2 linked regions of the Homo sapiens genome follow. The protein of the gene in region 1 interacts with the protein of each later gene in a pairwise test. Each region holds a gene or a part of one and is shown on either strand. Other genes may lie near its edges.

The links.
Region 2: the proteins of SLC13A3 (region 1) and CYB5R3 interact in binary tests that used the Homo sapiens proteins (3 or more experiments, as listed by UniProt).

The regions. Positions count from the first base shown.
Region 1 is NC_000020.11:46,556,529-46,561,589, forward strand, and holds the end of SLC13A3 (Na(+)/dicarboxylate cotransporter 3), read right to left. Parts: intron 3,671-5,061; coding exon 3,494-3,670; 3' UTR 1,300-3,493; downstream 1-1,299. UniProt on the Homo sapiens protein: High-affinity sodium-dicarboxylate cotransporter that accepts a range of substrates with 4-6 carbon atoms, such as the citric acid cycle intermediates succinate and alpha-ketoglutarate (2-oxoglutarate), as well as other compounds including N-acetyl-L-aspartate.
Region 2 is NC_000022.11:42,628,623-42,633,339, forward strand, and holds part of CYB5R3 (NADH-cytochrome b5 reductase 3), read right to left. Parts: intron 2,829-4,717; coding exon 2,756-2,828; intron 2,367-2,755; coding exon 2,260-2,366; intron 1-2,259. UniProt on the Homo sapiens protein: Catalyzes the reduction of two molecules of cytochrome b5 using NADH as the electron donor.

The DNA.
Region 1 (5,061 bases):
TTCTTATTTTTCCCAGTCTGATTGGCATGTTGTTGAATTTATTTTAATTTGCATTTCCCTGCAAATTATAAACACATAGGTTTGGGTATCTCTTCATAATCCTGTTGGCCATGTAGATATCTCTTTTCAGGATGACATTTCGTACCTTTTGTCCACTTTTTTCTTGGGGGCTATGGTAAATGGCTTCCAAACACGGCAGCCCACTGTCCCTGGTGGATGCCGCCCCTACCATCAAGGGCTGGAGTCTATTTCCTTCCCCTTGAACCAGGCCAGTCCTGTGGGCTACTTTGACCAATAGAATTTGGCAGAATTGACGTTCTTAGACTTCCACATCCTGCCCTTAGAGGCCTTTTAGCTTCGGTTTTTGTTGCTCTTGAAGGCCACTATCATGTAAAGAGGTCAAGGATAGACTCCTGGAGAAGCTACGTGAAGAGAGACCCTGAAGTGTCAGCGGCCATTGCAGACCTTCCAGCCCTAGCAAAACTCCCAGCTCACGGGGCAGAGACAATGCCATCCCTGCAGAGCTCTGTCCAAATGCAGAAACGTGAGCCGAGAAATTGCTGTTTCAAAGTTCTAAGTTTGAGGATGGCTTGTTATGTGGCCACAGGTAACAAAAACAAGGTTTGGTTTGGTTTTGTTTGTCTTGTCTTTTCTGAGTTGGGGTGCTTCTCATATCTTCTGGACATGAGCCCTTGGTGTATTCCAATGACTCTGTACCAGCCCTGCCATCTCCTTGTTCCTATGCTGCCATGAGCGTACCGTAATGGTGCTGCCGCCTTCTGCCTGCAGATCTTTTTCACTAAGAATGGCAAAGCCCTTCAGGCTTCAAGGACTGAGTAACATCCGGTCAGAGCAAGCTAGAATGCCTTCTCAGGAAAGCTGCAGAGACACCTGGTAACCAGCCAGAAGAGGCAGACTCTAGATTTCCAAATGCCACAAAGTTCCAGCTCAGAGCACCCAACTAAGTGAAGCAATCTGCTCATCTGAAACTCTGCACTTGCAGTCCCCTTGCCTGGAATGTTCTCCCCAGAGACTCCCCATCGCTCCCACCTTCTCCCTTCCTCCCACATTGCCATGAGCATCTGGCTGACTCCTTCAGGTCTCAATCTAGTGCCACCTGCTCAGAGAAGTCCTCTCCGTCCACCCTGGCTAAAGTAGCCTCTGAGTCAGTTTAACATCTTGGTCATTTTCTTCTTAGCCGGCATCATGACACATGACTTGTTTATGTTTCTATTGCCTGTCTCCCCTGCCAGCTTGTAAGTTCCATGTGGGCGGGACAATGAACCAGAACATGACAGGTTCCCAATAAATGTTTATTGAATGAATAAATGGAAGAAGGAGTGAACAAAGTAATGAACAAAACAGACCCCAGATCAGAGGAAGAGATGGCTTTCTTGTTAATTCTGGAGCAGATTCAAGCAGCAAATATTTACTGAACACTTGCTATGTGCTGGAAATTGTTCTAGGAACTGGAGTTACAGCAGTAAAAAAAATAACATTTGTATTTTCATAAATTTATATTCTAGAGGGAGAAGAAGATAATAAGAAAATAAGTTATACAGTGTCCTATTAAGGAGAAATTATAGCAGAGTAAGGGGGTGGAGAGTAATGAGGGTGACATTTTAGACAGGAGGTCAGGGAAGCCTCTCAGGGAAGGTGACACCTGAGCAGGGACTTGAATAAAGTGAGTCGGGGAACCAGACATATACTTGGGAGAGAGTGTTCTAGGCAGAGGGAACAGCACATGCGAAGGCCCTGAGGCAGAGTATGTAGCTGGAGAGGGGAGGGAAGAGCAGTAGAAAATCAGAGAGGTCAACTCTGTGGAATCCCCAGCCCAGGAATTTGGGGCTTTGAAGCTCTCTTATGTTCAGAAAGGCAAATCATCTCCAGGTCCAAAGTTGATTAACATTCTTTATTTCACAGTATTTTTGATCAGAAGTCTTAGAAATCATGATTCATCTGGTTACAAATCCCATGAGTTTCTCTTTGAATGAACCTCTTGCTTCCAGTCCCATACAACGCATCTCCCACCAGCCCCAGTGGGTTGTAACTGTGATTCAACACTGAGTGCTCACTTGGAAAGGAGGTGGAGCTCAACTTCCAACTCAGAGGGCCTCTCCCACTGCTCTCAGGGAAATGCCCATGATTCACTTATGCTGTATCAACAACAAGTGCAGCTGGGCGCTGCCTTCCCAGCTGGCCAAGCGCTCCTAGGGGAATCTCCACCCTCAGAGGCTTAGGAAAGGGAAGTGTGACGAGTCAGGGCCCCTGGGCTGGTGTCTTTTCCAATACTGGGCTAATGCTGGGCCATTCCATTCAGCAGACACTTCCTGAGGGCCTGAGCTCTTCACTGGGATGCCAGAATGCTTCTGCTTGGAACAAAGAGGGATTAACCCTTGAAGGCAGACACCACTTCCAGCCTCGGGCTCACGGGGACGTCTCAGTTTTACCCATATGCAGAAGGGGACAATCTTTTGCTTGCCTGAGACATTTTACCCTGGCCTTTTACAAGGCCCCAATTTATCTTTTGACTTTTCTCTCACCCCTGACAAATGGGGCCTTTGATAATTAAACATGCTTACCACTTAAGGTGGGGCATGGAGAGATCAAGGCCACCTGCTGGGACAAGCAGCAACTGACCGCCTTGCAGCCACAGAGGCCTATGGGGGCCACATGTAGGAGAGTCCTGGCTGGAGGGGTCATGAGTCACCCCATGGGAGGGCAGGACCCAGGCCTGGCCTGACCCCAGAATTATGGCCAAACTGACCCAGATGAAACAGGAGAATCCTAAATCTCTTGGGTCGAGATGTCAGCTGCGGTTTCTAGAACTTCCCCTGGTATGCTCAGGAGCCCAGAGAAACAGCAAAGAGGCTTTGCACAGTCTCATGTCCTTGGAAAGCTATCTGTCCCTTTCCCTGTCTCCAAGGATTAAAAAAGAATCTCTGACTGCTGGTTATCGGCAGGGGTAAAACAACTGGTGCAGAATGGGCACCAACTAAGCAAAATCACACACTGGTTGTGAACAGCTGGAACAACTGGGTTGGAACATTGCAGCCCAGGAAAGTGATCTTTAAAGACAAGGTGGTCTCTTCAGTGTAATCGAAAGTAATCACTGGGGGATAATGTTAGCTGTGCCCATGGGAATGAATGGCCTCCTATCCCAACTGTACGAGACAAACACCATGCCAGATTTGCTCACTGTTGATGACACTGGGCTGTCTTGTATCCTAATGATAAAACAGCTAACTGATAAAGGAGCTTATTTCTCAGGCAGCAGATCTGAGAGATACCTGGGCTTTGAACTGCATGAAAGAGAGAGAAAGTATCCTAGATAATGGCTCATGGACTTGAGTGGGCCACTGGAGGTCACCCTTGCTTGCTGCATATTGGATTACAGAAAAGAATTATTTGATTGTTTTGTAGTGTCCTAGCAGCAGGTGATGGTGACAGCCCTTTGAGAGGGTTCAGCCTCAAGGGAGTCCTCCAGGGGGACTCAGAGGGTCCGAAATGTGTCATTGGCCAAGGTGGGTGGCAATGCTGTGACATTGACCGAGTACATATCAGCCCAGTCCGGGAAGGTGCCCAGCTGGAAGATGGTCTGTGCCCAGGTATTCATAGCCAAACTGAGCAGCAGGACACCCATCAGGTTCATCAGGAGGCCTGTCCGCACCTGAAATAGAGCCCAGACAGAGGGAGGGGTCAGCACCTGACCCACCATACAGATGGAAACATTCAGACTCAGAGACAGGAAGTCACTCACCCAAGATCGCACAGCCAGGAAGTGATGGAGCCAGGACACAGACCCAGGTCGGTAAATGCCTGGGACCCTTCAATCTTTACACTACCCTAGGCTGTCACTCAAAGAGCTGCAAGTGTCCCCATTCATTGATGGCCTCTAGGTTCCAGGCACTGTGTGCTACGCAGTTGTCACAGGGTTATGCTGTTTAACCCAGAAAGCAACCTTACAAAGGTCATTCTTATTAATCCCCATTTTATAGAAGAGAAAAATGAGACCTAGAGAAGTTGACTTGTCCAAGGTCACCTAACTTGAAAATAATCTTGTCTGATCACTAAACACCCCCATCCCACACACATATACACACACGCATGCACACACACACGCATGCATGTAGGAACACACATATGTACACATAGGTACACACACACACTTCAGGTCCAGTCCAGTCAGGTAGTCCTAGTCAAGACTACCCTTGTCCATTGGGAAGCATTTTTCTTCTGTCGGTGGAGAATGTGCCCATCTGCTCCCTACCCTGGCTGGCCTCTTGGACCATTCAGTCCACCTTGGGCTGAAAATCCTTGTTTTCCCACCTGGGTCTTCTGGCTGCCCCGCCTTCACATAGCCCAGGCTGAATCACATGGTGAGACAGTTACTTCCTTTCTAATTCTCTTTCTGTCTATTCCTCCCAGAGAAAGTCTCTCTTAGGGGTGTGATAGGAAAATAAATCTTGGGGCCCCCAAATTACTAAGCTAAAGAGAAAAGTCAAACTGGGAACTACTTAGGGCCAACCTGTCTCCCATTCTATTCAGTCATCCCTCTGCTCACTGAGTTGAATGCATATCTGATTGCCTTCTTTGGAAAGGCTCATCAGAGACTCAAAATAATGCAACCATTTGTCTCTTATATACCTATGACCTGGTAGCCCCCTGCCCTCTTTGAGTTGTCCCGCCTTTCCGGACCAAACCAATGTTCATCTTACATATGTTGATTGATGTCTCATGCCTCCCTAAAATGTATAAAATCAAGCTGTGCTCCACCCACCTTGGGTGCATGTCGTCAGGACCTCCTGAAGCTGTGTCACAGGCGTATGTCCTTAACTTAGGCAAAATAAACTTCCTAAATTTACTGAGACCTGTCTCAGATTTTTGGGGTTCACAGGGGCCACCATGGCTTCAGCACTTCTCTGCTCCTGTCAGTTGCCCTTTTAACAAGGAGAGGCCCAGAACCTTCTCCAGGCAGCTGCTATCAGGGAGAGCTTAATTCTTTTGTTTTTGCCGCTTTGCATTTATTTTTAGGTTTACTGGCCATGGCATATATTAATA
Region 2 (4,717 bases), on another chromosome or scaffold:
TCAAGGCTCTGGGAGGCCCACTAAGCCACACTCCTCCTGGTGGACACTCAGTCCCTTCCGTTTTGTGCTGTCGCTAAAAACCTCCCTCACTCTTGGGACTACTTCCTGCCCTGCACTCTCTAGGATTACTGTCTTGGGAAAGAGAAGGGCCTCAATCCGACACCTACAAAGAAATGGGGAGACAGAGGAGGAGCGGCTCACCCTGCCCAAGGAGTCTGATGGATGGAGAAGGGGAAGGTGGCTGGGGGAGGGACAGCGTGTACACAGTGCCTCAGGGAGGGGAGCCTGTTGTGGCTTCAGCACAGAGGGTGGCTATGGGGTGTGGAGGCAGAGGGGAGTGGAGGGCCACGGACAGGCAGGCAGAGCACACTGTCCTGGGCCCTGGGTGCCAGGCCAGGACTCTAACCTTTATCAAGGACCAAGGGAGCCAGCCAGGTCTCCAAGCCAGGAGAGGCCTGGTCACCTGTGAGTTTTTCATCCTCAATTTGAATCCTCCTAATAGCTTCTCCACATTTGGCCAGAGAGACTTCAACGTGAACAGATGCTTGAGCCCTCATCACCTCCTCTGTGCTTCTGGACAAAGCCCCAAACCTTACTGGGGCCTCCAAGGCCCCGTCTGGCCCCACTGACCTCTCCCACCCCTTGCCCCAACCCTCCAGCCACTTCAATCCTTGAGCCTGCTGCTGACTTCAGGGCCTTTGCACCTGAAGCTCCTTTTCTTCCTTCTTCACCTGGTCAGTGCCTACTCAGCCCCAGATCTCACCTTCACTGTCACCTGCTAGGGAGCCACTCTCACCAGCCAACCCCACCCATCCCTGGTGGCCCTTCTGGAAGCTCGGTCGCAGGTACCTGTCCCCTGCAGGGAGCACTGGCTTCCCCATGACTATGTGTCCAGTGTCCGTCCTCCAGCCAAAGACGGGCTCCTGAGGCCAGGCCTGGGCGCCCCAGCAAGGAAGGAGCCCGGGCCAGGGCCCTTCCCACCCTTCAGATCCAGTGCCTGCCCCCAGACCTGGCAAGGTAAGGGCCTCAGCTACGGCCCAGTAAGGGGGCTCCAGGGGTACCTGAGGGTGCTGGGCTGGGGAGGCTATAGGGCTTTGGCCTTGATTGGGGAGGGTCTCCAACACCCCACATACCCACTGGTCTAGGCTGCTTCTCACCCTCTGTTCTGCAGGAAAGCTTGTATTTCTTTTTTTTTGACTGGCTCTCATTCTATTGCCCAGGCTGGAGTACAGTAGCATGATCTTGGCTTACTGCAACCTCTGCCTCCCAGCTTCAAGTGATTCTCCTGCCTCAGCCTCCCAAGTAGCTGGGATTACAGGTGCGCACCACCATGCCCAGCTAATTTTTTTGTATTTTTAGTAGAGACGGGGTTTCTCCATGTCGGCCAGGCTGGTCTCTAACTCCTGACCTCAGGTGATCCACCCGCCTTGGCCTCCCAAAGTGGCTTACAGGTGTGAGCCACTGTGCCTGGCTGAAAGCTTGTATTTCTAATTTTCATAAAAACGTCCCTGCTGGGGCCGTCATGCTGCCTCTTACTTCCCACTCGGCATGTGTGTTTCAGGTTCCGGGCTGCTGCCCCTAACGCCTGCATCTTCTCCTGTGAACCTCCACCTCGAACCCCGCAGCAGACCCCAGAAAGCCCATCACCCCAGCTCCCAGACAACACCACACGAGCCCCTCACATGTTTCCCTAGCAGGCCTGAGGGACATTTCTTAGGGAAACGGGTAAGAACAGGGCCTGCGTGTCACAGAGGCCCGGCCGCTGACCACGGTGGAGTGGCTGCCTCACCCCGCACACTCGGGACCCAACTCCCAGGGATCTCCCAGCGTGAGAGCAGGGACGGGACTGCGCCGTCACACCTCGCAGCAGGGGCGTCTGTACCGCCAGCCGGCCTTCCTGGAGCCTCTGCTGCAGGTACCTGTCCTTGTTTGAAGGCACTTGCCCTGAACCCTGGCCCCTGTTCTCTGCCAAGACCCCCTTCTTTGGCTTTTGTTGGTAAAGATGACGTGCTATTTACTCAGAAACCAGGCACAAGGGAGCACTGGGTCTTTGGAGTCCGGGCTGCGGGGGGACATGGACTCGAGAGGGGCTCTAGAAGCCACTGCCCCTGCAAGCCCCTGAGGAAGTGGGGCAGCCATGACCGAGGCTGGGCTGCACAGGGCAGGAGCGGGAGACTTCCCTGTCCAGGGGGTCCACATGGGCTGTTGCCATGGCCACCCACCCACACCCCCTCCACAGTCATGACCCAGAGGCTTCACCTTGATGACCAGGTCCACGAAGCCCTTGTCATCATCGCTGGAGATGGGTGTATAGGGCCGGACGACCAGGTTTCCATCAATTCGAGCCGAGAGGTAGATGTGCTGGCCTGCAGGACAGAACGGGGTCACTCTGGGCCAGAGATCATCCTGCGGGTGACCCCTGGGTCTTGTCAACCCACTCCCCTGCACCCCACCCGGCATTCAAAGCCTGGCCTGGCGTCAGCTCCCACGGCCCCCTCCCACCCCTCCCGGGGATTCCCCTCACGTCCCAGCTTCCTGCCTCCATGCCTTCACTCCTGCTGGTGCCACTGCCAGGGACTCTGGGCCTTCCCACTCTCATTCCAACAGACTCGCCCTCAAAGGCCCAGGGCAGCTGTCACCTCCTCCTGAAGGCTTCCCTGCTCTCCCTGGTGGAAATGTAAAGCTTCCATCTCTCTGATCTAGTGCCCCAGCAGCCTGCCGGGCTCCGAATGGGCCCAGCAGGGGCGTGACTCACCGACAGGGAGGCCCAGGATGTGCTGGGGTGACGGCAGGGCAAAGCGGAAGCGCCGGGTGTCATGGCTGATGATCTGGAGAGAGGCCCAAAGCTGCTGAACGGTCCCCAGGGCAGAGGCCTCCCAGGGCGGCTCCCAGGCCTCGGAGCCCCCATCCCATTCCTCCTTTGTGTCCCCACCCTTCCCCAGTGCCTGCTTGTCCTTGTAAGACGTGACGCCGACGCCAAGCACAGATGCACACACATGCACGCTGCGTGTGAGGTGCTGAGGCCAGGCGCACGCTGGGTGTGTCTGTCCTGCTGGCCTAGAGGGGCCACAAACAAGGTGGCCAGAACAGGGAATGAACCCAGGGTCCCAAAGGGAGGATGCCAGACAGGACGGGGAGGGAGGAATCCATCTCTGCCATCAGCTCAAGCAGTGGCCTGAAGGGGCAGGAAGAACTTGAGGGCTGGATGGGCAAACTGGGGCAGAGCTAGACAAGGCTGCACGTGCCCAGGCCTGCATCCCAAGAGAGGGGCTGCAGAAGCCACTGCACCTGAGAGCCCCTTGGGAAATGGGGCAGCCAGGACTGAGGTGGGCTTCACAGGGCAGAAAGTGGGAGCCTTCCCTGCCCAGGAACTCCAAGAGCCCAAAGCCAGGCTTCCACCCTGCACAGGGTGGGCACCCAGGGCATGGTCAGTGGCTGGGACAGTGGCAGAGGAGGAGGGGGGCTGGCTAAGAGCCAGATTGGGCCAGGGAAGGAGCTGAGACTAAAACCCCTGAGGTCTTGTTAAGTGGGTCTTACGCTCAGGCCAGGGACGATCACATAATCAGTTCCAGTCGGAGCTGGAACCAAACCCAGCGTCCTGAGGGTGCACTCCCTGTGGGGTCCCCAGTACCCAGCATGGCCAGGAGAGGGAGTGTGAAGAAGCCATGCGGAAGGTCGGCGCTGCAGAGGCGCTTACATCCAAACGTGGCAAAGTCCACATGTGGATGGTGTCATCACTTAGAGGGGGACAACAGACCTCTCCAACAGGGCAGGACATCACAGATGCCCATCTCGGCTCAGTACGAGAACTCTCCGACCTGAGCAGTGTTCCAGCACAGAGCAGCTGCCTCAAGGAGAGACCCGTCCCTACACGTGTGAGCAGAGGCAAATCGCAGGAAAGACGGTGCAAACGCCACTCAGGATCAGGTGTGCAGGGGGCCCACCAACCTCTCCCAGGCAGCCCAGGCCTCAAAGCTGCCTCTACCAGAAGCTTCTGCATTAGGGGCAAACAGAGCCCCAAGGCCTTCTGGAAGTGGATTCCAGGACTATCAACTGGTCCTAAGGGTCAAGGTCAGACACCCATGTACCAGAAAATATTTGGAGGAAGAATAGAAATGAGATGGCCAGGCGTGGTGGCTCATGCCTGTAATCCCAGCACTTTGGGAGGCCGAGGTGGGCGAATCATCTGAGGTCGGAAGTTCGAGACCAGTCTGAACAACATGGAGAAATCCCGTCTCTACTAAAACTACAATGTTAGCCAGGCGTGGTGGCGCATGCCTGTAATCCCAGCTACTCAGGAGGCTGAGGCAGGAGAATCACTTGAACCTGGGAGGCAAGGTTGCAGTGAGCTGAGATCGCACCATTGCACTCCAGCCTGGGCAACAAGAGTGAAACTCTGTCTCAAAAAAAAGAATAGAAATGAGGACAAGAGATGAACAATTATGGTGCTGGCCAACCTCTAGTAGGGCAGCAGGGTGGGGCAAAGCACAGAGCACCCAGAGCAGGCCCGCTGCGGACCCCGCAAAGCCACCATGGGCACAATGAGGGGGCAAAGCTGCAATCCTAGGACATCTGCCACATGCTCCCTTGTGTAACATCCCTATGATGAAATACTAAAAGGATCCATGTTGTATGGCTGGCTACAAAACCAGGTTATCAAAAAAAGAAACTGAGTGTGCACACACCCGCACCTCCACACACCCGTGTATGAACGTGA